4 separate regions of the Homo sapiens genome follow, and regions 1, 2 and 3 are each reported to be linked to region 4. Evidence: microRNA targets listed by miRTarBase, many of them from high-throughput screens and not tested one by one. Region 4 holds a microRNA gene; each other region holds the end of a gene's coding sequence.
What was found. The annotated mature microRNA hsa-miR-920 reads GGGGAGCUGUGGAAGCAGUA and lies in region 4 at 3,237-3,256, opposite strand. An mRNA with a match to its seed (bases 2 to 7 or 8) in the 3' UTR can be bound and repressed. Matches are read on the target gene's strand: a 7mer-m8 pairs with bases 2 to 8, a 7mer-A1 pairs with bases 2 to 7 and ends in A, and an 8mer does both.

Region 1: the mRNA of PPIL6 is a reported target of hsa-miR-920. The part of its 3' UTR that is shown has no 7-base or 8-base seed match.
Region 2: miRTarBase lists MBOAT2 as a target of hsa-miR-920. Seed matches in the 3' UTR shown: 7mer-A1 at 343-349.
Region 3: miRTarBase lists NCKIPSD as a target of hsa-miR-920. The part of its 3' UTR that is shown has no 7-base or 8-base seed match.

What each region holds. Positions count from the first base shown.
Region 1 is chr6:109,388,464-109,394,063 of GRCh38, reverse strand. It overlaps PPIL6 (peptidylprolyl isomerase like 6), which reads left to right. Exons shown (of 8, transcript NM_173672.5): 8 at 1,127-3,849. The coding sequence ends at 1,238. Among named protein-coding and RNA genes, the nearest start is that of CD164, 8.8 kb to the right of the region's middle.
Region 2 is chr2:8,853,907-8,859,223 of GRCh38, forward strand. It overlaps MBOAT2 (membrane bound glycerophospholipid O-acyltransferase 2), which reads right to left. Exons shown (of 13, transcript NM_138799.4): 13 at 1-4,998. The coding sequence ends at 4,773. Among named protein-coding and RNA genes, the nearest start is that of KIDINS220, 19 kb to the left of the region's middle. RefSeq lists an enhancer at 1,012-1,563 and a silencer at 1,153-1,447.
Region 3 is chr3:48,670,661-48,676,260 of GRCh38, forward strand. NCKIPSD (NCK interacting protein with SH3 domain) reads right to left here. Exons shown (of 13, transcript NM_016453.4): 13 at 3,184-4,087. The coding sequence ends at 3,884. Among named protein-coding and RNA genes, the nearest start is that of LINC02585, 9.7 kb to the left of the region's middle.
Region 4 is chr12:24,210,127-24,215,726 of GRCh38, reverse strand. It overlaps MIR920 (microRNA 920), which reads right to left and starts at 3,306; the gene lies at 3,232-3,306. It also overlaps a transcript of SOX5 not described here.

The sequences.
Region 1 (5,600 bases), not on the chromosome of region 4:
TTTTATTCATCACTCAGTGGATGTTGTCAGGTGCCTGGTAGTGCCAGGCATTATGCTAGGCACTGAGCCTGAGCACAAGCATGATCCCTACCATCATGGGAGAATTAGAAATCAATCAAAGAAGCATACAAATAAATGTAAGGTTTCAACCCTGGGAACTTCTCTAAAGGAGCGACAGAGAACTTAATATAAGCAAGGTGGCCTGGGAAACTTCCCCCAAGGAGGTGATGACTGGGCTGAGGTCTGAAGGAAGACCAGGAGGTGACCATGCCAAAGGGTAGGGGTGGGGGAGTAATGCAGGAGCTGTGGAAGAAGGGAGTGTGGAGCTCTTGAGGTACTGAAAGCCAGTCTGGCTGTAGCAGAGAGCAACAGGAAGCATGTGGCCCGACCTCCCCGAGAGGCCGTGGGAGATAGACTGTGCAGGCCCTGGTAGGCAATGGCAGGGACTTATAGTCTTCATCCTAAGGATAATGGGAAATTACTGTCGTGTTTTGAGCAAGGAAATGAAAGCAGATTGCTATTTCTAAAAGACCATGCTGGCCAGGTGTGGTGGCGCACACTTATAATCCCAGCACTTTGGGAGGCCAAAATGGGAGGACTGCTTGAGGCCAGGAGTTCAAGACCAGCCTGGGCAACATAGCAAGATCCTATCTGTACAAAAATAAATAAACAAAAATATTGGCCAGGCCTAGTGGCACACACCTGGTAAGCACTGGCTACTCAGGAGGCTGAGGCAGGAGGATCACTTAAGCCAGGAGGTCAAGGCTGTAGTGAGCTAAGATCATGCCACAGCACTCCAGCCTGGGCAACAGAGTGAGACCCTGTCTCAAAAAAAAAAAAAATCACCCTGACTGCAGGGAGAAAAACAGAGGGGAGGGTGCCAAGCAGATGGAGGAAGCCAGCTTAGAGCTGCGGCAGGAGGCCAGCTGCCTGGATGATGGCCCTGGATACTGCAGGTGTGGTAAAGTGCACACATCCAGAGAGGTTTAGGATACTTAGAGCTGATGTTCATTCAATTTGTAGGAAATAGTCTTAGCTATAGCTGGGTAGGACCCCATTTCGGAATGTTAAGCTAAATATGAAAACTTATGACTGACTAAATTTTCCATTTTTTTCTCCTATGTAGGCAACTGATTGAAGGAACAGAAGTGCTTAAACAACTAGAATTAGTTCCAACACAGAATGAAAGACCAATACATATGTGTAGAATTACTGACAGTGGAGATCCTTATGCTTGATTTTCATATCAATATTTTCTGTGATAATTTATTACTTTGTATCTGATCAGCTGTTTGTGGATTTAATTAAAAAGTACTTGATAAATTGTAATTTGAAAGCCGTGGCAGACACTGTAGGTTGCCTCATCTACACCCAATCCCTCCCCATCTTCCTTTCCTGTCTCTGTCATAGAGACTGTGAAAGGGTGGTACTCAATTTCCTAGACTCCTTTGCAGCCACGGGTGGCCATGAGAGATGGTTCTGGCCAGTGGGACAGGAATAGAACGCCAGTGGTCCTGCCCCTTCCCCTTCATCCAGTCTGGAATGTGGAGAGGCTGGAGCTACAGCTGTCATCTTGTGGCCATAAAGAAAAGGCTGAGGCCAGGTGTGGTAGCTCACGCCTGTAATCCCAGCACTTGGGAGGCCGAGGCAGGTGGATCACAAGATCAAGAGATTGAGACCATCCTGGCCAACATGGTGAAACCCTGTCTCTACTAAAACTACAGAAATTAGCTGGGCATGGTGGCATGCACTTGTAGTCCCAGCTACTTGGGAAGCTGAGGCAGAAGAATCTCTTGAACCCGGGAGGCGGAGGTTGCAGTGAGCCGAGATGCCGCCACTGCACTCCAGCCTGGCGACAGAGAGAGACTGTCTCAAAAAAAAAGAAAGGCCAAGTACTGCAGAGATGTCAGCCCCAGTCTCTTGAGCTGCGGGACCAATACCAGCAACCACCTACTCTGGACTTCTTATTATAGGAGACTAACAGAGCCCTGTGTTGTGTTGTTTATGTTACTGTTGGTTGAGAATTTTGTTACTTGTGGACAAAAAATTCTTAATTTAGCAACACACCTGATAGCCTAAGACATTTGTAATAGAATTATGTTCTTGTTTGTAACTACATGTACTCCTAGGAGAAACTTGGTAAGTAACCAAATAGGAATGATGCAGAAGAAAAAGCAATTCATTGTAATATTTCATTGTTTATACCAGCATTCAGAAAGAGTATCTACACTTTGGATGTTTTCATATATGACATGAACATCATCCTTATCTCTCTGAGCCATACCAACCCTATGAAAACCAAGGGCTTGTTTTACAGTGTCCGTGGTGGCTGACTCATGTGATGTTATTGGAGATTCAGCTTTATCACTACTCTGTAATCTAAAGTTCTCAAGCTCATATCACCTGGGGAGCTTTTAAAATGTAACCTAACAGACCTTGTCCTTGACCTACTGAGGCAGAGTTCCCAGGCGTGGGGCAGAGATTCTGTGTTCATTTGGTTCTTTCCCCAGGGTTCCCAGGCGTGGGGCACAGATTCTGTGTTCATTTAGCTCTTTCCCCAGGGTTCCCATTTAGACAGCTGGGCACTAGTCATCTGGGAATCACTGCAAGACATAAGGAACTGGTTCCAGTCCCCATGGTGTAATGTAGTCAGCAGAGTGCTTGACTCTGCTATTGGTGACCTTGCTCAGCTCCTGTTACCACCACTACCCTGTGCCCCTGCTCTGCCCAGACTAAGAGTGCTTTTCTTTTTTTTTTTTTTTTTTTTTTTTTTTTTGAGACGGAATCTCACTCTGTCGCCCAGGCTGGAGTGCAGTGGCACAATCTCGGCTCACTGCAAGCTCTGCCTCCCTGATTCATGCCATTCTCCTGCCTCAGCCTCCCGAGTAGCTGGGACTACAGGCGCCTGCCACCACGCCTGGCTAATTTTTTGTATTTTTAGTAGAGATGGGATTTCACCATGTTAGCCAGGATGGTCCCGATCTTGTGACCTCGTGATCCGCCCGCCTCGGCCTCCCAAAGTGCTGAGATTACAAAGGCGTGAGCCACCGCACCCGGCTGAGAGTGCTTTTCTTACCCTAAGCAGAATGAGGTTTGTCTTCCAAGAACAATCTCTATTTACATCAGTCTTAAAGAGGCAGGCTTCTAATGGATATGAGGCTTGCCAAAAGTAGGCGTAGGCTTTTTTAACTTTTTATTTTGAAATATAGATTCACAGGAAGTTGCAAAAATAGTACAGAGCAGTCCTGTGTACCTTTCACCCATTTTCCCCAGTGGCTACGCTTACAAAACGGTAGTACAATATCAAACCAGGCAGCTGACATTGGTACAATGTGTGTGATGCCATTTTATCATGAGTATATTCATGTAACCAACACTATAGAGAAAATATAGAACCTTTCCAGCACCTCAAAGACCCCCTTCCAGTACCCCTTTACAGTCAACCCACTCCCCTGCCCTCTGCCATCCCTAACTCCTGACAACTGGCATTTGCTTTTCCTTTTAATGACAGCTTTATTGCTATATGACATATGCTTTATGCTAAGACCTGAGGTGGATGGGAGGAAGCAGACCGCCTATGTTACATTCTCAACTGACCCAGAGCAACATAGTGTTAAGAATGTGTGTTCTAGGGCCAGAATCCTGGCTCTGCCATTCCCTAGCTGCACAAACTCAGGCAAGAACTTTTCTGTGCCTCAATTCCTTCATCTGAGAAACAGTGGTACCTACCACATAAGATTGCTGTGAGGGTTCCATGAATCAATAATTTCTATAAAGAACCTATAAGAGACCTGGTCTGCTGTAAGCACTCGATAAATTTAATAATAAATTACTAATGTGTAACCTTCAGGGTGTAGCCTCAGAGCTTGGACTTTTTGAAAGCTCTCCAATGACTTTGATAGCCAGATTTGGGAATCCCTGAGGAGAGTCTCCCTCTTCCTGTACTCACAGACTTCTGGGCAGTCTGAGAACTCGGGTGATTTGTCTAGAGCTTCCAGACCCTCTCGCTGGGCCTTTGCCCAGGTTCCTCAGGTCACACTGGGGACATCTCAGACAAAAGGGAGCTGGGCTTGCCACCAGGATTCAAAACAATTGGTGAATGAAAACTGATTCTTTGCAAGGAGCCCGGTTAAAACACATGACAAGCGTTACTCATGTAATAACAAACAGCAGGGCAGTTCTTACTGGTGATGAACCTATATATTAATGGCATTAGGCATTTTATCTGATGTTGTGAAAGAACTGGGATATTTGTGTGGGTGTAAGAAACTGATTCCAGCTCCCTTTGTCAGCAGCAATAGAAAGGTAGAACTCTGCCAGTCTTCTCAAGGATGGCGAGTTCATGGTCCCTTTGTTCACTCTAACTTTCCACTTCTGGGCTGTGGAAACCTCAACCACAGATCCATGCAGTGGTTCTTATCACCAGCACTTAAAAGTATACACACTGATACTTCTGTGCTAGAATGATTTGTATGTTTAACCTCATAGTTGAAGAAACTGATTGTTAGAAGGACTCAAAAGTTTACTCCAATGAACTCCACATGTAAGACTTTGATTTAACCAAACTGAAATACACTAATTAAACAGAAGGGATTCTAGATTTTTCCACATCTACAAATAGGACAATAAAGGCCTTCTGATGATTTACACAAAATGCTAAGTTATATGTCTAAACTTGCCCTAATTGCTGATATGGCAAAGTCAAGTACATACGCTTTATCTTATACTAGGCCGTGTGAATAAGGGAGGGCATATCTAAACATTTTTCTTATATGGGGAGATTTGAGGTAAATATTTAAAATTCTATCCAAGGAATTTGTTTGCCCCTACTGCAAACAGTGCCAGTTATTTGTTAAGGAATGGATAATCTGGCAACCTCAGGATTCCAGACCCTGAGTTTTTATACATATTTTAAATGAAGCATTATTTGTTTGAGAACCACCTGTCCAGCAATGTGATGGTCAAATCACTTAACCTTTCACTGTCCCCATTTGTAAAAATAACAGAAGTTGAGTTGCTAGCTTTCTTCTGGCTCTAAAACTTCAGTGATTATTCTGAGGAAACGCATAAAATCAACAATTTTAAGTGAAATGGGGGTACATCTGTCTCAGTGTTCTGAGGATTGACACAGCAGGTGAATCTATTCACAGCAGGTGAATTATGAGAAGCACAGCACAGTGCTTCTAATAATGCTTGGCACACAGCAGATATTCCTTAAGAATTAGTTTCCCTTCAGAAATGTCTCCCCACGGAAACCAGTCAAGCTACCACTGACAGAATATCATCATCCTAATTTCAAGAAATATCAAGCTCTTTTTATACTGAGTATTAGCAGTTCTCACATCAGATTAACTTTCAATCAACTGAACTAGTTCAAAGGTATATCTTTAAAATTAAAATTGGTCTCTACCACACCTAGCAATATTCTCCCTTATGGAGACTCATTTTTTAAACTATATTGATCTTACCATCCCCTACACTTCCCAAAGTGGAATCACCACCACTTAAATCTGGCAAGTCTTAAGACTTTTGTATATCATACGAAATATTGGTGACTAACTCAGTAGTAATGTATACAACATGAATTACAAGTTGCATAT
Region 2 (5,317 bases), not on the chromosome of region 4:
TGGGATTTGCATAATGTTAAAAAACCTATTAAAATAAATATTATTTTAAAACATACAAAAACATTATTCAGCAGCCTACCAATTAAAATGTAATTGGCTGCAACCTCTGTACAAGAAAAGCCTCAAAAAGCAGCTTAAGCATTGATTATAAGAGCTTTCCTACAAAATACCGATGTGGAAAATTTCATTTTAAAATTTCTGTTGTAATCAGAGTTTCTATAAATAGATTTGACTACTTGGTGTTGCAGAAAAACACTGTAGAGACCCTCTATGTTCTAATCTTTCAAACTCAAATTTCAGGGTGTATTTCTCTCCTTAAATGCAAATCTTTTGCTTCAGCATTGGGAGCACGCGTTCATCAAGAAACCCACTTTTACAAGGGCTGGAGAAAACAGAAATTTCAGCATCTAAGATGAGTGTATCAACGACCAGCCACTCATTAAATGCACACTGGGTTAAATGCAGCAGTTTTATAAGGTATTGAGGGCAGTTAAGATTACATCTCACAGTGTTATTTAGGATTCTGCACCTATATTAAATTTCAGCCAGGAAGAACTATTAACGCCTGGATAAAACTCCACAAAATACTAGCTTATATCTAAAACTCTGGACAAATTTTTAGCTGACACAGATATAGTAGGCACTATTCTGAAACAATTATTTTCTCAAGTAATTTTTCTTTCAATTATAATGTAGAACTGTTAAGACCAATTAACTAATAATTGTGAACAGTTGATAAGGAAACAAAAAAAGTATAAATGTCCAGATTTGTTCATGAATATACAAACTAAATACTTACAAGGTATGAACTTTAAATAGGAGAGATTTTTGTCCTAAAACTGTGATCTAGTCCTTGAGTAAAAGTATAAATTTATAATTATTTTAATGGCAAAAATTTTAAAGCTATTGTTTTCTGCGGTTTAAAATAAGGTGTAACTAAACTAAATATGCTTTAAATATCCTTGAATAACTTTGAGATGTTATATAGTGGTAAACCCTGTCCAGTAGTCAGTAATCTGTATAAAATATTTCAGAGCATATATCTTCTCCAATTCCACACAGCACAGAAACCAACAAAGCAGAGAGAGCAAAAGGAAAACATGTTTTCTTCAGCAGAGACTATTTCATTATGAAACACTCATTGTAAGAGCTATTGCCAGTAGAAAAAGTATGTTGCCATGCCTTCTGATTTAAGGGATTCAGAGGTTTCACTGTTATCATGACAACCTTTTGAAATGTCAGGGCTTTGAGCTCAAGTAGTAAGTCAATGACCATGACAATAGTGTGGACTGTGAATGTGCCCAAGTCCTTGAATCCTACAGACCTTGCTAATGGCTCCGTTCACGACACCCAACTGGTCCTGAACTCTTAGGATTAACCCGTTTGCTTATGGCTGAGGAACTTGGGGTCTACAGGACAGGTGGCTCCTCCAAGTCTTAAGTCTCATGAAAGGCAGAACCAGAATGAAGATCCAGGTCTCCTCCTAGGTCAGCTAGTGCTTAAATGTGAGTTACTGTCACTTTCTAGAAACCTCCTTTTTACTGCACATTTTTCTCAAAAGTGGTATGTTTGGAAATCCTGTGTGTGTCACACATGGTGGAGACCAATAAATATATTTTTGAAGCAAATGGGCAGTAGTGGCTAATAAGAGAAGTGGTCACCAGACATTTTTGAAGCCAAATAAATCTTCTCTATCCTGCCGGATATTTTAGAAGCTAAATAAATTCCCCCAATTACCCTGAGTTCCAATAAAAATACTTACTTTAAGAACAGAATGAGCCACTTATAAAATGGTGACAGCTGAGGCATACCAAATTATACTCTTACTGTTTCAAGAAAATGAAATTGAAGGATGAGTAGTTATTTTTGTTCATTTTTTCCCTGAGTAGTATATAATTAACCAAAAGTATAAATATGATGTTGATTGATCATCTCTAGAGTGATTTCATGATACCTGAATAGTGGAAAATATAAAACATAAATATGCATTGAATCTTATTCTATTGATTAAAAAAAAGCAAGCACATAATACAACGAATCCCCTTTCTATTTAACAGGAGTAGACGTACCAGTTTAAAATTCTTCTACTGTAAGTACTAGAAGCAAAATATTAATCTTTGTGATTATTACTTCTCCAAACTAGAGGAGAGATATCCAAAAACCATTTCATGAAAATAACTAGTTGATTCAGGGGTATGAAAATCAGTCAAACTGGATATGGAATTATTATCTTCGAAGGAACCAGAAAACCAATCAAATATCTTGCTTTCTAGATGACAGTGCCAAGATCATATTCACTGAGCAAGAAACAGGTAACAGTGACTAAGGTTTACAGGCTGAGAAATAAATTCAGGTAACAGAAATGTGATTATTTGTAGGTGGCTAGATAGGCTGAACCAAAAAAAAACACACACACACACACACACACACACACGAACAAAACCCAACAAGTTTGTATTAAGCCTTCTTGTTTTCACTTATGACATGCCTGAACCTGTCTTTTAAATTCTTAATTTGTTCACTTTCTCTTAATAGCAGTCGGATTCTCTGCAACATTAATGAAAATGATCAAACATTTTACAGGGCAGGTACATTCCATGAACATTCTTTCTATTCTCTCACATTAAACAGCTGGCATAATTTCTTTTTTCTTTTTTTTTTTTTGTGAGACGGAGTCTTCCTCTGTCACCCAGGCTGGAGTGCAGTGGCACAATTTTAGCTCACTGCAACCTCCACCTCCCAGGTTCAAGCAATTCTCCTGCCTCAGCCTCCCAAGTAGCTGGGATTACAGGTGTGCGCCACCATGCCCGTCTAATTTTTGTGTTTTCAGTAGAGACGGGGATTCACCACGTTGGCCAGGCTGGTCTCCAACTCCTGACCTCAAGTGATCCGCCCACCTCGGCCTCCCAAAGTGCTAGGATTACAGGTGTGAGCCACCATGCTCAGCCAACATAATTTCAATGCATGGGAAAACAGAGGAAATTTATTTAGTTATCAATCCTTTCCTGGGTAGGGTTAGCCTTATCAGCCGGAAAACACTTACTTTTAGATAAATAAAAATAGATTAGGATATTTCTAAACTTCAAAAAAGACACATGCCCATTTTTGCTGAGACCTCAAAAGCTGCAAGTGCATTTGCTTTTCCTTTCTTCTTTAAATGAAGTATTATATAGCATAAGCCAGATGGTTGCCTTGTCTTTAACTTCATTTGCAAATTTATTAGTGACTCCACCCCCCGAAAAAAAGAGAGAGAGAACCCCATCACAGAAAATTTGCATTTCATTAAAAATTTAAGGCAAAAAGTAAAAGTAAGTTCCATACATAGGTCAAACAAAGGTGAAGTCAGAAGGCTTTGCCCCCTCCCCTCCTACAGGGCAGGAGGTACAATCTGGGGCTGAGGCCACTCCACTGCCTGGCATCAAATCCCACTCTTCTGCTTTCAGCTCCTGTGGCCACCACAGTCCTCTGTGGGATCGCAGGAGATGCTTAGTAATCCAAGGCAAGATTAGTTGTGGTAAAAATGGCCCATAAAATAAAAGCACATTTTTCCACTTACAGAACCTAAAACTCATTTTAGTAAGAGTTCACAGCAAAATTTTAATGTGAGAAGAGTTTGAAACTGAATTTATATTATTCTTAAAAAATGTCACCCAGACTCAGTGACTTTTATTTTTCATTTCCCTAAAAGTTTCCCAAATATGAATTAAATTGTCAAGGATAAGAAATGGATTAGCCAGATAGTAACCTACCTAGCGATTTCTCTTTCAAAACCTTTGAGCAACCTACCAGTATTATTTTCAAAGCCTCTAATTCTACATAATTTATGCCTGATAAATTTAATTTAGAAGTCCAAAGTATCACGAAGTCATTCAACTTTTTTTTTAAGTCTCACATGACGGCGCAGAGCCCTGGCATGGGGGGGAAGCTGCCTGCAGAGTCGCGGCTGTGCCCCGTGCATTCCACCGGAGGCCACGCAGTGCTTCTTCATTCCTGCCTTCCTTCGTCACCTCTCTCTTTTAAGAAAAAGAATAAGCTTAAAATATCACATTACCAAACCTCTCATTATGTTTTAAGAGATTCCTTCTGGAAGCGCTCTTTGACTGCACAAGGTAATTAAACTCTCCAGCAAAATCAGCTACCTATAATTTGGCGTCCATTACTGTTTACAGTTTCACTATGGATTGTAGTCATTTGACATACTTTAAGAAAACCCTTCAAATACTGAGATGTTTATTGCATTTTAAAAATATCCACACTCTTAAATATCCTGTTTCAAATTCCTCCTAAAATCCTTTACAGCACACAACATCAACTACTGCAGTAGCGTTCTCACAATATTACACTTGAAAATACCATTTAGGAACAATATTTTAGGAAATAGAGGGTTTAAGGCAAGACATTCATTTGGAAAAGTTAATTTCTCTCTATCATCCAGATTGACACGATTATTTTTCCACCTCTTCAGTGCCTTGGGATACGCAACATACATTCAGCAACAGGGCACGCGTGTGACCCTACGGACAAGTGCTGAGGTTGGGAGTGCCCACTGAAATATGGAAATATTCTTACATAAGGCGTGGCCCACGGAGACATGGCATGGGAGGGCTTGTTTCACTCCATTTCCAATCTGGTGTACAGGAAATTCCTTATCTATAACTGTCCATTTCCCCCCAGTTAACTGCTTTTCCAACAAACTCAAACCCCTTGAAAAGGTGCTAAGATTGGTTTCTGTTAACATCAAAAAAAAAAAACAGCCCTCAGAGCCTTCCCGATCACTGCTTTAGTGATGAATGTCTCGAGGCTATTTCTTGATTCTGATTGCAAACATTGTTTGTTGTAGAAAAACTGTTCTGTCCCAAAGAATTTTCTCCTTCATCAAACTTTTTGGATTGTGAGAGCTGAATGTTTTCATGTGTATTCTTTCTTCTTTGAGTTTTTTTCACTGGCAACAACAATAATACTAAGATACCAAGAATGTGCAGGCAATAATACCAGGAGCTAAAAGAAAAAGGGAAAAAGTTTATTAAAACTTGATAATTAATAATCCTTAATAACTGCACACTTGTCAAAATGTCACATGGCCCACCTTAGGATGTATTTGTTTACTACATTACTACATTATTCTTTTATTTTTCCCCCTCAGGAGAAGAAACCTGACAGTGTAGGCCAGTGGGTATTTATAGCACTGGATAAATCCAGGCTAATTAGAAGCCTGATTTTCTAGATAGCATATTACATTCCTTTGTAAGGGTCAGAAGGCCATGGTTAAACAGAATAAAAACAAAAATGTACATATTAATACCGGTAGCAATCTGAA
Region 3 (5,600 bases), not on the chromosome of region 4:
ATATGCCAAAGACACGGTGCCAGCACTTTTTTTTTTTTTTTTGAGTTGGGGTCTCACTCTCACCCAGGCTGGAGTGCAGTGGTGCAATTGCTCCTGAGCATAAGTGATTCTTCCACCTCAGCCTCCCGAGTAGCTAGGACTACAGGTGTGGGCCACCACGCCCAGCTAATTTTTGTATTTTTTGTAGGGATGGGGTCTTCCTATGCTGTCCAGGTTGGTCTCAAACTCCTGGGCTCAAGCGATTTTCCCTCTACGGCCTCCCAAAGTGCTAGGATTACAGGTGTGAGCCACCTGCACACTTACACACCCATTCCTAGCTGCAGCTTCAGAAACTTCTGACCCAGGAAGTCAGCCCAAACCCCCTCACTGTCCCCCAAAATTTGAGTTCTTCTCAACTCTACCCAAACACTCCCCTTTCTTGGGGTGGCTTAATGCTCTGTCTCATTGCCCTTCCTACTGCCTACCCACATATCACATCTACCAACCTTCCACGCAGCCATAGACGTGTTCTATCAAAGACAGTTCCCTCCCCAAGAGGACTTCTCTGACTAATCATAATCTGCCTTTGGTTGTAATTTTGTGTTGTGAGGCCACCACAAGGGTGTTTGCTGAAGAGGTCCTGGAGTCCCCTCAGAGCACGCTTGCTACCAGGAGTCAGCATGTATGTAACTTCATCAGCTGGGGCTTCTGCTTCTCTTACAAACAGGTGCCAGGGCCCACCTTGGGCACTCCTGCAGAAGTGAGCAGAGGCTTCTGCCATGGGGCCATACCTTGTTTGACCTAGGTGCCAGCACTGGGACAGATGGCACAGCACAGTCCTGCCGTTCCCACAGGGTTTGTGTGTGCATCATGACAGGAAACACAGCAAGTCACAAAGGCTGTCCGATGTCCCTGCCTCAGCTTCCTGAGGACCTGTGCTTTTTACTGAAATACACTATCTCATAAGAATACTTCCCTGCCTTCCGCACCCCAGTGAGAAAGGAGTTGTGACTGGAAGTCAGTGTCATTGACTTTGGATATGAAAAGGAGGCAGAATGTCTCCAGGGTTAAAAGTAGTAACCAGGCCAGGCGTGGTGGCTTATGCGTGTAATCCCAGCATTTTGGGAGGCGGAGGTGAGTGGGTCACCTGAGGTCAGGAGTTCAAGACCAGCCGGGCCAACATGGCGAAATCCCATCTGTACTGAAAATACAGGAATTAGCCGGGTGTGGTGGCAGGCGCCTGTAATACCAGCTACTGGGGAGGCTGAGGCAGGAAGAATTGCTTGAACCCAGGAGGTTAAGGGTTGCAGTGAGCCAAGATCACACCACTGCACTCCAGCCTGGGTGACAGAACACGATTCCATCTGAAAAAAAAAAAAAAAAAAAAAAGCGGGGGCTGGGCGCGGTGGCTCACACCTGTAATCCCAGCACTTTGGGAGCCTGAGACAGGTGGATCGTCTGAGATCAGGAGTTCGAGACCAGCCTGACCAACATGGTGAAACCCCGTCTCTACTAAAAATACAAAAATTAGCTGGATGTGGTGGTGGGCACCTGTAATCCCAGCTATTCGGGAAGCTGAGGCAGAGGAATCATCGCTTGAACCTGGGAGGTAGAGGTTGCAGTGAGCCGAGATCACACCATTGCATTCCAGCCTGGGTGACAAGAGCAAAACTCCGTCTCAAAAAGAAAAAAAAAAAAAGTTAGTAACCAGGTTGTGTCCCACAGAGCTTTACTGGGGGCCAAACACTGTCAACCCCTCCTCAGGTCCCAGTGAGTTTGTGCACCTGGCCTTCTGACAGTAAGCGGTGAGCAGGGCATCCCCCACCAGGACCCCATACTTTCCTCCCATGGGTTTCCTATGGAATGTTGCTGCTTCAACTTCTGAGAGCCTCTTGCTGGGGGGCCCCATCCCTAGCCCTTGCCTCCCTGTGCTGCTTTACCTTCTTTTTGGGAGGATAACTGCCCTCTGTTTTCAGCACCCCAATAAGAAAGAAAAAGTCATGACCAGAAGTCAGTGTCAGTGATTGCTGATGTGTGGAAACATCTGATGAATGAAGAGTTTGGGTAAAAAATAAAGGGAACTGATGAAAACCACTTGTGTGTGAAGCCTATATAGTGGTGTGTGCCTGTAGTCCCAGCTACTCGGGAAGCTGAAGTGGGAGGACTGCTTGAGCACAGGAGTTGGACATCAGCCTTGAAAAGATAGTGAGACTCAATCTAGAAAACAGAAACAACACTTCTGACTGGTGTCTGCCTGTGGGTTTCTGACTCTGCTCCCAAACTTATGGTGAGAACTTCTTTGCTAACTTGAGAGTCTGCAAGAGTGAAGTTTTTGCCAAATTTTGGCCCTTAGTTCCTCTAAAACACTAATGGAAACGTAACCCCATGCTTGTTAAGACCCTCCTTCTGCCCTACCATGATTACCAGATCTCTGCTGAGGTTGCAAGATGAGGTGATCTTGCTGGAAACAAGGACAAATGGGGGAAGAAAATAGGGCTGGACAGGCCCAAGCATTCAGAGGCCAGGGCTGGGGGTAGGTAGGGGCCTGCTTCATTTGAGAACAACTATGAAGGACAATAGGGTTTCAACAGGGGAGAGAGTAGCGGTATTCAAAGCAAAGCAAAAGATGTAAGTGAAAGATGTAAGCGGGCCGGTGCGATGGGTCACGCCTATAATCCCCGTACTTTGGGAGGCCAAGGCAGGAGGATCACCGGAACTGAGGTGTTTGAGACCTGCTTGAGCAACATAGTAGGACCCTGTCTCTACCAAAAAAAAAAAAAAAAATTAAATTAGCTGGGCATGGTGGCTACTGTAGTTTCAGCTACTCAGGAGGCTGAGGCAGGAGGATCACTTGAGCCTGGGAGGTCAAGGCTACAGTGAGCCTGGGTAACAGAGTGAGACTGTCTCAAAAAAAAAAAAAAGGAGAAAAAGAAAGATGTAAGTGTGTAAGTGAAGCCTGGAGATGCAGACACCTGCGAATGGGCTGCTGAGGGGCACTTGGCTATGGCTGGGGCTCAGGAAAAGTGGAGCTCAGGGAAGAGAGGCTAGAACAGGGCTCAAAGGGCCTTGAAGGCCAGGCCTGTCAGGGTCCATCACCTCCTCAGGCTGGAGAAGTCAGTGCAAGCTGCAGTGATGGGGTCCTGAGGCCCCAGTACTTCTGCCCATCCTCTCCCACTGTCTCCCAAGATCATACAGGGAAGCCTGTTTCCAGATGCCTGTGATTTATTTCCAAAGGAGAGCTACAGCACATAGGAAAATACACATGGCTTTTCAGTCTACATTTTTACAGAGAAAAGAGATTCGGTCATTGGCTTTCTCAGTGCCATCATCCTGTTCCATGAGGCTCCAGGATGGATGGCCTGTCTCCAAGATCCCGCTTTCAAAGCAGCAGCTTGGCCAAGGCCTCTGGGGGTAGGAGTGAAGGGCAGCGACCCCCATGTGCGGGTGGAGGGGAGGACATGAGCAGCACTCACTGCAAAGCTAAGGCAAAGAATAGAGCTGGTGGGAGATGCCTCCCCTCACCCCAGGGGCATGGCTTGCTGAGGCCCAGGATACAGACCAGGAGGGGTGGGGATGGGGGTCTGGTCCAGCCTGGAGCGGCAGCAGGACTCTGAGTGTACACATGGGTGTGGGGTGAAGAGGGGGGCATGCTGAAGAGGAAGCCTACCAGGGTATAGAGGGGCTTTAGCTTGCATATTCCCCCTGCCCCAGAACAGCTCCCAGACCATGGTCCCCAATCCTACACTTGGCCCCTCTCTTAAGTTCTACTTCAGGTGGGGGTCCTGCTCAGGTTCCTTCTGCCACCTTATCCCCTCCCACTGTCAGTGCAAAACATTCTTAGGGCCAAGCCCCTGAGTCCCCTGCACACTGACTGGAGCTGCAGGGAAGGGAGGACAGCAAGGTGCTAGCTGGGAGCCTCCCCCAGCACCAGGAATTCCTTGCACATCTCTCGGACAATCATGCGGTCCATCTGGCACTGGGGTGAGGTCTCCTCCTCATTCAGGATGCGTCGCAGTATGGCCTGCAGGTCGGGTAGCCGGTGGCGGTGCTGCAGGTAGGGTGTGGTGCGGACTATAGCATGCATCAGGGAGAGGTACTCCATGCGCAGCTGTGGGAAGAGCAGGCCAGCTCAGGGACCCCAGGGAGGTACTGCAACCACCACTGGACAGGGACAGGACCCCACTGTCCCACAGACCCCAGGGCTGTGGACCTGAACATCAGGGCTGCATCCCCAGCACCCACAATATACCTGGCACAGAATTGGTCTTCAATAGTTTTTGAGTAAGCGAATAAACGAATCATCCCAGCCACAGACAGCCCCAAGTATGTGGCCTGCCCAGGGAAGTCCTGCCCATCCTTTGAAGCTGGGTCTCTCAAGGTGCCTCTGTCTATCAGTCAGAGGCCCTCTGCTTCTCACCCTATCCTCTCTTACCCTGGAAGACCTCGTGCACATTCACAGCTTCAAATAGTGAACCACTCTCATACCTCTTACCTAGAACTCCCCTGTGAGCTCCAGACAAGAATATTCAACTGCCCACTTGACATCTCCTGCACATGTGACAGACCTCAAATCCACATATCTACCACCAAACTCATGATCTTTCCCATCCTCCCAGAGTTGAAGGTTTTCTCATGTTCTTACCTTTAGAAAGAGCACTGTTGCCGATTCAAAAGCACAGGCCTGAAATATGGTGTCCTCTTTGCTTCTTGTCTCCCACATACCTCATATCCAAGCCATGTCTAAGACCTGGCCATCCTACCTCCTACATATGCCCCAAATTCATCTCCAACAGCCTCTCCTCCAACCTATACTCCCAACACCTCTGGCTGAACCAGTTCCAACAGCCCTTATGATCTATATATATATATCATATATATATATATATATGATATATATATATATATATCATTTTTTTTTTTGAGACAGGGTCTCGTGCTGTCACCCAGGCTGGAGTGCAGTGGCATGATCTTGGCTCACTGCAACCTCTGACTCCTGGATTCAAGTGATTCTCCTGCCTCAGCCTCCCAAATAGCTGGGATTACAGGCATGTGCCAAAATGCCTGGCTAATTTTTGTATTTTTTTTAAGAAGAGACGGGGTTTCGCCATGTTGGCCAGGCTGGTTTCAAACTCCAGACTTCAAGTGATCCACCCACCTCGGCCTCCCAAAGTGCTGGGATTACAGGCGTGAACCACCACGCCCGGCCAGCCCTTATGACTTGACAGCTTGTTCTCACAGAGACCCCCAGTCCACTGACCTGATGTCTGCTTCCCTCAACATCCCTCATTTCTCTTTTTACCTTTAATTAGAGAAATAATACCAAAACCTCCTTTAGGCAGCACACCCTGCTAAGTCCCAGCCCTGGGAGTCATACTGAGGTGCCTGCACATCAAACACCAGCGTCTAAGCTATAGACAAATGCAGAGCCATGTGCAGGCCTGAATGTCATTCACCACCGCAAACCTCAAACGGACACACAGCACTGCCTGAGCCTCCCACTGCTTTTCTCTGCTGTGTCACTCTCCCTTAGAGTAGTAATAATGTCCACCTTCTCTGTCTTTGAAACCTACCTACCTTGTCAGCTGGCCTTGTGCTTCATAGAGAATACAGAAGTAATCTTG
Region 4 (5,600 bases):
AAAAGCCAACTGGGATTTTGATAAGAATTGTGTTCAATCTGTAGATTAATTGGCAAGTATTATCATTTTAAGAATATTAAGTTTTCTCATCCATGAATGTGGGTTGTCTTTTCATTTTTTAGATATTCTTTAATTTTTTTCAAAGATGTTTATAGTTTGTGATTCACAAGCCTTAGACTTCTAATGTTAAATTTATTCCGAAGTATTTTATTCTTTCCATGCTATTATAAATGGAATTGTTTCCTTGATATCATTTTCAGAATGTTCATTACTAGTTTGTAGAAATACAATTGATTTTTATATATTGATCAACTATCCTGCAACCTTACTGAACTTGTTCTTTAGCTCTTATAGTTTTTTAATTACTTCCTTAAGATTTTCTAAGTAAAAATGATAACGTTATCTACAAATAGCGATAATCATACTTCTTTCTTTCCAGCCTGGATGCCTTTTCTTTCTGTTTCTTATTTAGTGAACCTGTATGAAATCTCTAATAAAATGTTGAATAAAAGTGGTATGAGCAAACATTCTTGTTCCTTAGTTTAAGGAGAAAACAGTTAATGTTTTGCCATTAAGTATTATAGTTGTAGATTTTTCATAGATGGTCTTTACTAGGTTGAGGAAGTTTCCTTCTATTGCTAGTTTGTTTAATGTTTTGATGGTTTTAAAGCAGGGTGTTGGATTTTGTCAGATGCTTTTCAGCATCTATAGAGATATTGTATGATTTTTCCCTTTATTAATATGGTATGGTATGTTATTTGATATTTATATGGTAAATCAACTTTGCATTCCTGGGATAAATCCTACTTGGTTATAGAGTGTAATTCTTCTTGCCATTTTATGTACTCTAAAATGATCTAAATATTCCAAAATTATTTAGGCTTTTTAAAATGAAAAAGAATATAAATTAATAAATAAAAGTTGCACAAGTCACCTGGTCTTAGATTACCTCTAAGTCTGTAGCTCTGGTATGTTAGACCAGTATTTCAGAAGTGGAATTCTGTTTTCCTGTAAGTACAGTTTGAAGTATTGTCATTAAAATACTGACCTGCATAATCTGGTTGATAATATAGGACCAACCTAAGACAAAAAATTGATAAGCTTTTTATTTATACAATTTTAATAAGCTTGTTGCAAGATCCCACATATAATTAATAAATGCATAAACATCTTGAAGTCATATAATGTAGTCATTTTGGTGGCCAAACCTTAAAAAGCAGACAATAGCTGATGAACTTCCCCATATAAAAAATATTCCACAATCACAAATAAATAATAAAATCATAATAAAATAGCTGTATGTATTGAAAACTTAGATTTGGGGTTCATGACAAGCTTATGAAGCCATTTTGTAGATTGGGAAAATAAGCCTCCAAGAGGTTAGATAAATTTGCAAAAACATTCCCAGAAATCAATAATTAAATTCTGCTTTTATGACCCTGCAGTCTGTCTCTGATAAAGTGACTACTTATAGAGTGTTTCTGTTTTTATTTTGTTCTTTCTATTGTTGGTATTTTTGCCTGGAAATTATTCAATGGGTTTATGAAGTATTTATTCTTCTATAACTTAGTGTCCTAGTACAATGTAGCACCGTGCTTTGCTAAGTGCTTATGTATTCTATAAATTTTATTTCATAAATTTATACATATACATGTATTCCATAAGTTTTATTCTATAAATTTATACACATATGTATTCCATACATTTCAGTGCCCGTTAGAATGTTTTGCGTAAAGTATTGTAGCTCTAAGTAATATTACATTATATATATATATATTTTAAACTATCATGGACTATAAAAAATGGTTGTAATTGTCTCAGTAAAACTAGGCTTAGGATCACTTCAGGCTATACACACACACTTGTGTGAGTGAGTTTGTGCATCACACATGCATGCTCACATGGCTGAATTAATCATATGATGACTTTTAAGTGATTTAATTAATATGGCTCCAAAATAATTAGTTCATATTTTTACATTTCAGTTGTCGCTGTATCTTGAAATGTCATTAATAAAAATTGTTTAGTTTTTCATTGATTTTTCATTCATTAGCCACTAACTAGCACAGTCGTATGAGTCTGATGTTGTTTTATGGCTATGAATCTGGTCTAGAAAAAAAAAAAATTATTATAATGAAAGTACTTAATATTTTTTCCAACATTTTGCAATAGAAATCTCATTTAACTATCTTTATCATTTTCAATTTTTTTATTTATTTGGAATTACTCTGATTTCTCACTTAATATTTTCTTTCTTTGTTTCAATTTTTCTTCCTTTTTCTTTTTCTTTTTTTTTTTTTTTTTTTTAGCATTTCAAGAAATAGATAATATCAAGGACATCAGGACACCGGGAGTGGGAGAGATTGGACTGGGAGACTCAGCAGGTCAGGACATTTACATTACCATTTGCTGGTCATTCTTTTGCCATCAGTTTTACAATTCTCAAATCTCTTGCCACTTGCTTATTTCTTCCATGTGCTTGAGTTGTTCTTGGTTTGCAAATTATGAATAATACTCTAATAATGTAAGAAGTTGAGCATTTGGGCATCTTCCTTTTATAGTTTGAAGATGAAAATAATTTAAAAACTATCAAGAATAGAAACAAAATCTTACATAAGTTACATAGATGCCTGAATTTATATTTTTTCTATATTTTTTTCCTTGTATAAACTGTTTTGAAGTGAAACTTCTTAATGACTTTCCCTTAATGACTTTTAAGAATCAAATTCTTAAAACATGTAGAATGTTAATAAATATGTAATTGTAGGGAGGAGCACCCAGGTCATGAAAATCGAGTTTCTTCTCTTCTCTGCCATGTACTCTGTGCTGGTGTCCACCTCTAAAAGCTCTTGACACTCTTCAGAGTCAATCTGTTTGCCAACGCTAATAGTAACCAGAGAATATTGACTACCATGTATGAAATGAGAGTTAATTAAATCAATTTCTATGTAAATAAAAGATCTCAATAGTCAAAGAGTCTCCTGGGAGCATTCAGCAGTCATTGTGCAAGGTTAGTTTTAGTCACGTTTCTCAGTAAGCTAGAGCCACACTGGCCTTTGAAGTCCCCATTGCCATGATTGTGGCTAATGGCTGTGTGTTCATTCCTGGGTCCAGGGAAGTGTCTTGGTTGTTTCAACAATGCTCACAACTCTCACTATTATTGCTTAGTTATGAGTGAAGACTTGGTGGTCCCCTCCTTCCTTGTAATCCTTCCTTCCTTGTAACCCCTCCCGTGTTACTGCTTCCACAGCTCCCCTGGAGTGTGTCTTAGCTCCTACACATCCAGGTCTTCTGTAGAACAACTACCAGTGGCTTTTTCAGTTTTCATTATACAGAGAGATAAATGTCTTTGTCCTTCAGTGTGATCAGATCTCTTCAATTAAAATGACTTACTCCTAAAGGAACTAAGCTTAAAGTTATTCTATCTGGATGCCTCAGAGATTTTGTTATGTTTTAGCATGAACATTAGGACATTAGGGATTGGACACATTTTTATTGGCATGTACCTTGAGAGAACACTCCTTACCCGCTTAAAGGGAAGATAAATTTCGACTATATCTTCATGCAATGCATATGCTTAACTCTCTGCTTTTAGCTAAATGGTAAGAGTCCTGCAAAAAGCTGTATTTAAAATGATACGCCAAAGTAAGTGTGTCTGCACTGATTCTTGCAGAGTTAAGAACCACTCTTCAATGATACTTTGATAAAGAGTATTCTGATAATAAACATTCCCAAATTTTTAGTTTGCAAATATTATGGAAATAAACATTAAAACCAAATAAGTTGAAGCTAAACGTTGTGGATGTTCTTGTCATCCAACAATTATATAAATATTGGCCTTAAATTGAATACACTTGTTGTTTGGCTTTCACATGTTTGGAAGCAAAATAAAGAAGGAAGGGACAAACATCTCATAGATCCCTGTAGTCTTATGAGACAGAAAGAAACTTGGTCCAATCAACTTATTTCACAAGTCTAAATAACTCTCCTCTGTCACATGGAACATTAGTAACAGAACTAAATCTATGTTTCTTGGCATGATGCAGGTCTACTACATTATGCTACCTCACAGGTTATGGAACACAAATCATTCTGTATACTACATTGTGCACACACATAAAAATACCATCATATTTGCCATTTTGCCAACTTATCATTTGATAAAGAATGCTATTGGTACTAACACTTCACTTTGGATTATACTAATATTCAAAGAAATCAAGAACTTAAAAATGTTTTTGATAGAGTCATTTCCCTGGAGAAGTTTTCTGTTTAGCTAGATGAAATAAAAAGATGATTATCCATTCATTAATTCATTTATTCATACAAGGAAAATTCCTACTCTCCCAGAGCTTTCATTCCTATGGAAGAAAACATAAAGTGAAGATTTTGATGTGTATGTCAGTGGGGATAAGTACTAAGAAGAAAAATAAAGCAGAGATACTAGAGAACACTGAAATACCTCCTCAGATACACTGTCTAGGGAAAGGCTCTTTGATAAGGAGAGAATGGAATAGAGGACTGAATGGAGTAAGAGAACAATTTCAAAATGTGGGGGAAGAGAGGTACATTCAACAGGAAGAGTCAGTATGAAGAGTGTGCTTGGTGTGTTGAAGGAATGGCAAGGGCAGTGGCAGGAAGACAGGAGCAGACAAGTGAGAGATGACGCTATGGAGGGTGAGTGGTGTTCATCATTTACAGCCTGGTAGACCATAATAGGACCTTGACTATTATTCTGAGGGAGATGGAGATCATTAAAGGAATCTTAGCAGATGAGGAGCATGTTATGGTTCATATGTTTTAAGGATCAGTCTCACTTACAAGTTGTGTACATCATTTAAAAAATGTCCCTTTATAGACAGAATCTAAATTATGAGTAAAAATAGATTTAATAATGATTAGGGCAACATTGTCTAACCAGGATATTGACTGATGATTGTGTTCAAGGGGCTAATGTTAGATAATACAGCTATCCTTTTTCTTTTCCATGTCTTTAATTCACAGAATTCTCTTGAGTTTGAATTACGGTTTTTGGCTTTGTATAATAACATTGTTTTATAATAGGGACCTTAATGATAATGATATATAATATTTAAAAATTGTGTGCATTCAGTTAGTTACTTGGCACAGCTGAATTTCTCATTTGTTTGCCATTTATCATTTCAACCCTAACCACATAACTTTCTGTAAGTCCAGAAAGAAGTCCTGAATTTTATCTCCTATTTGAAAGAGAAGATGTTTGAAAATTATGTAACTCTTTTATTATAATTATCCCAATCCATGAGACTATTTATGAGCAGGAAAGACAGAGTAGTTGAAACAAATCAATTTAGTATGAATTAGCAGGCATGAATTCTGGAGGCAGCTCTGAAACTTACTAGCTGGGTGACTTGCCATCTTTGACCTCTGTTTGCCTCCTCCATGACCTATGGGAGAAGTGCAGTGTTGTTATTGCTGCAGTTCCTTCACATTTGTCAAGCCATTGTACACATATTAGGTAATAAAGAGAAAATGGGTGAATAAAGAGTTACTTACATTAGAAGTAACCATTTATAATACAAAATGAGAAAATAAGGGATATGGTTTCATATAAATAACAG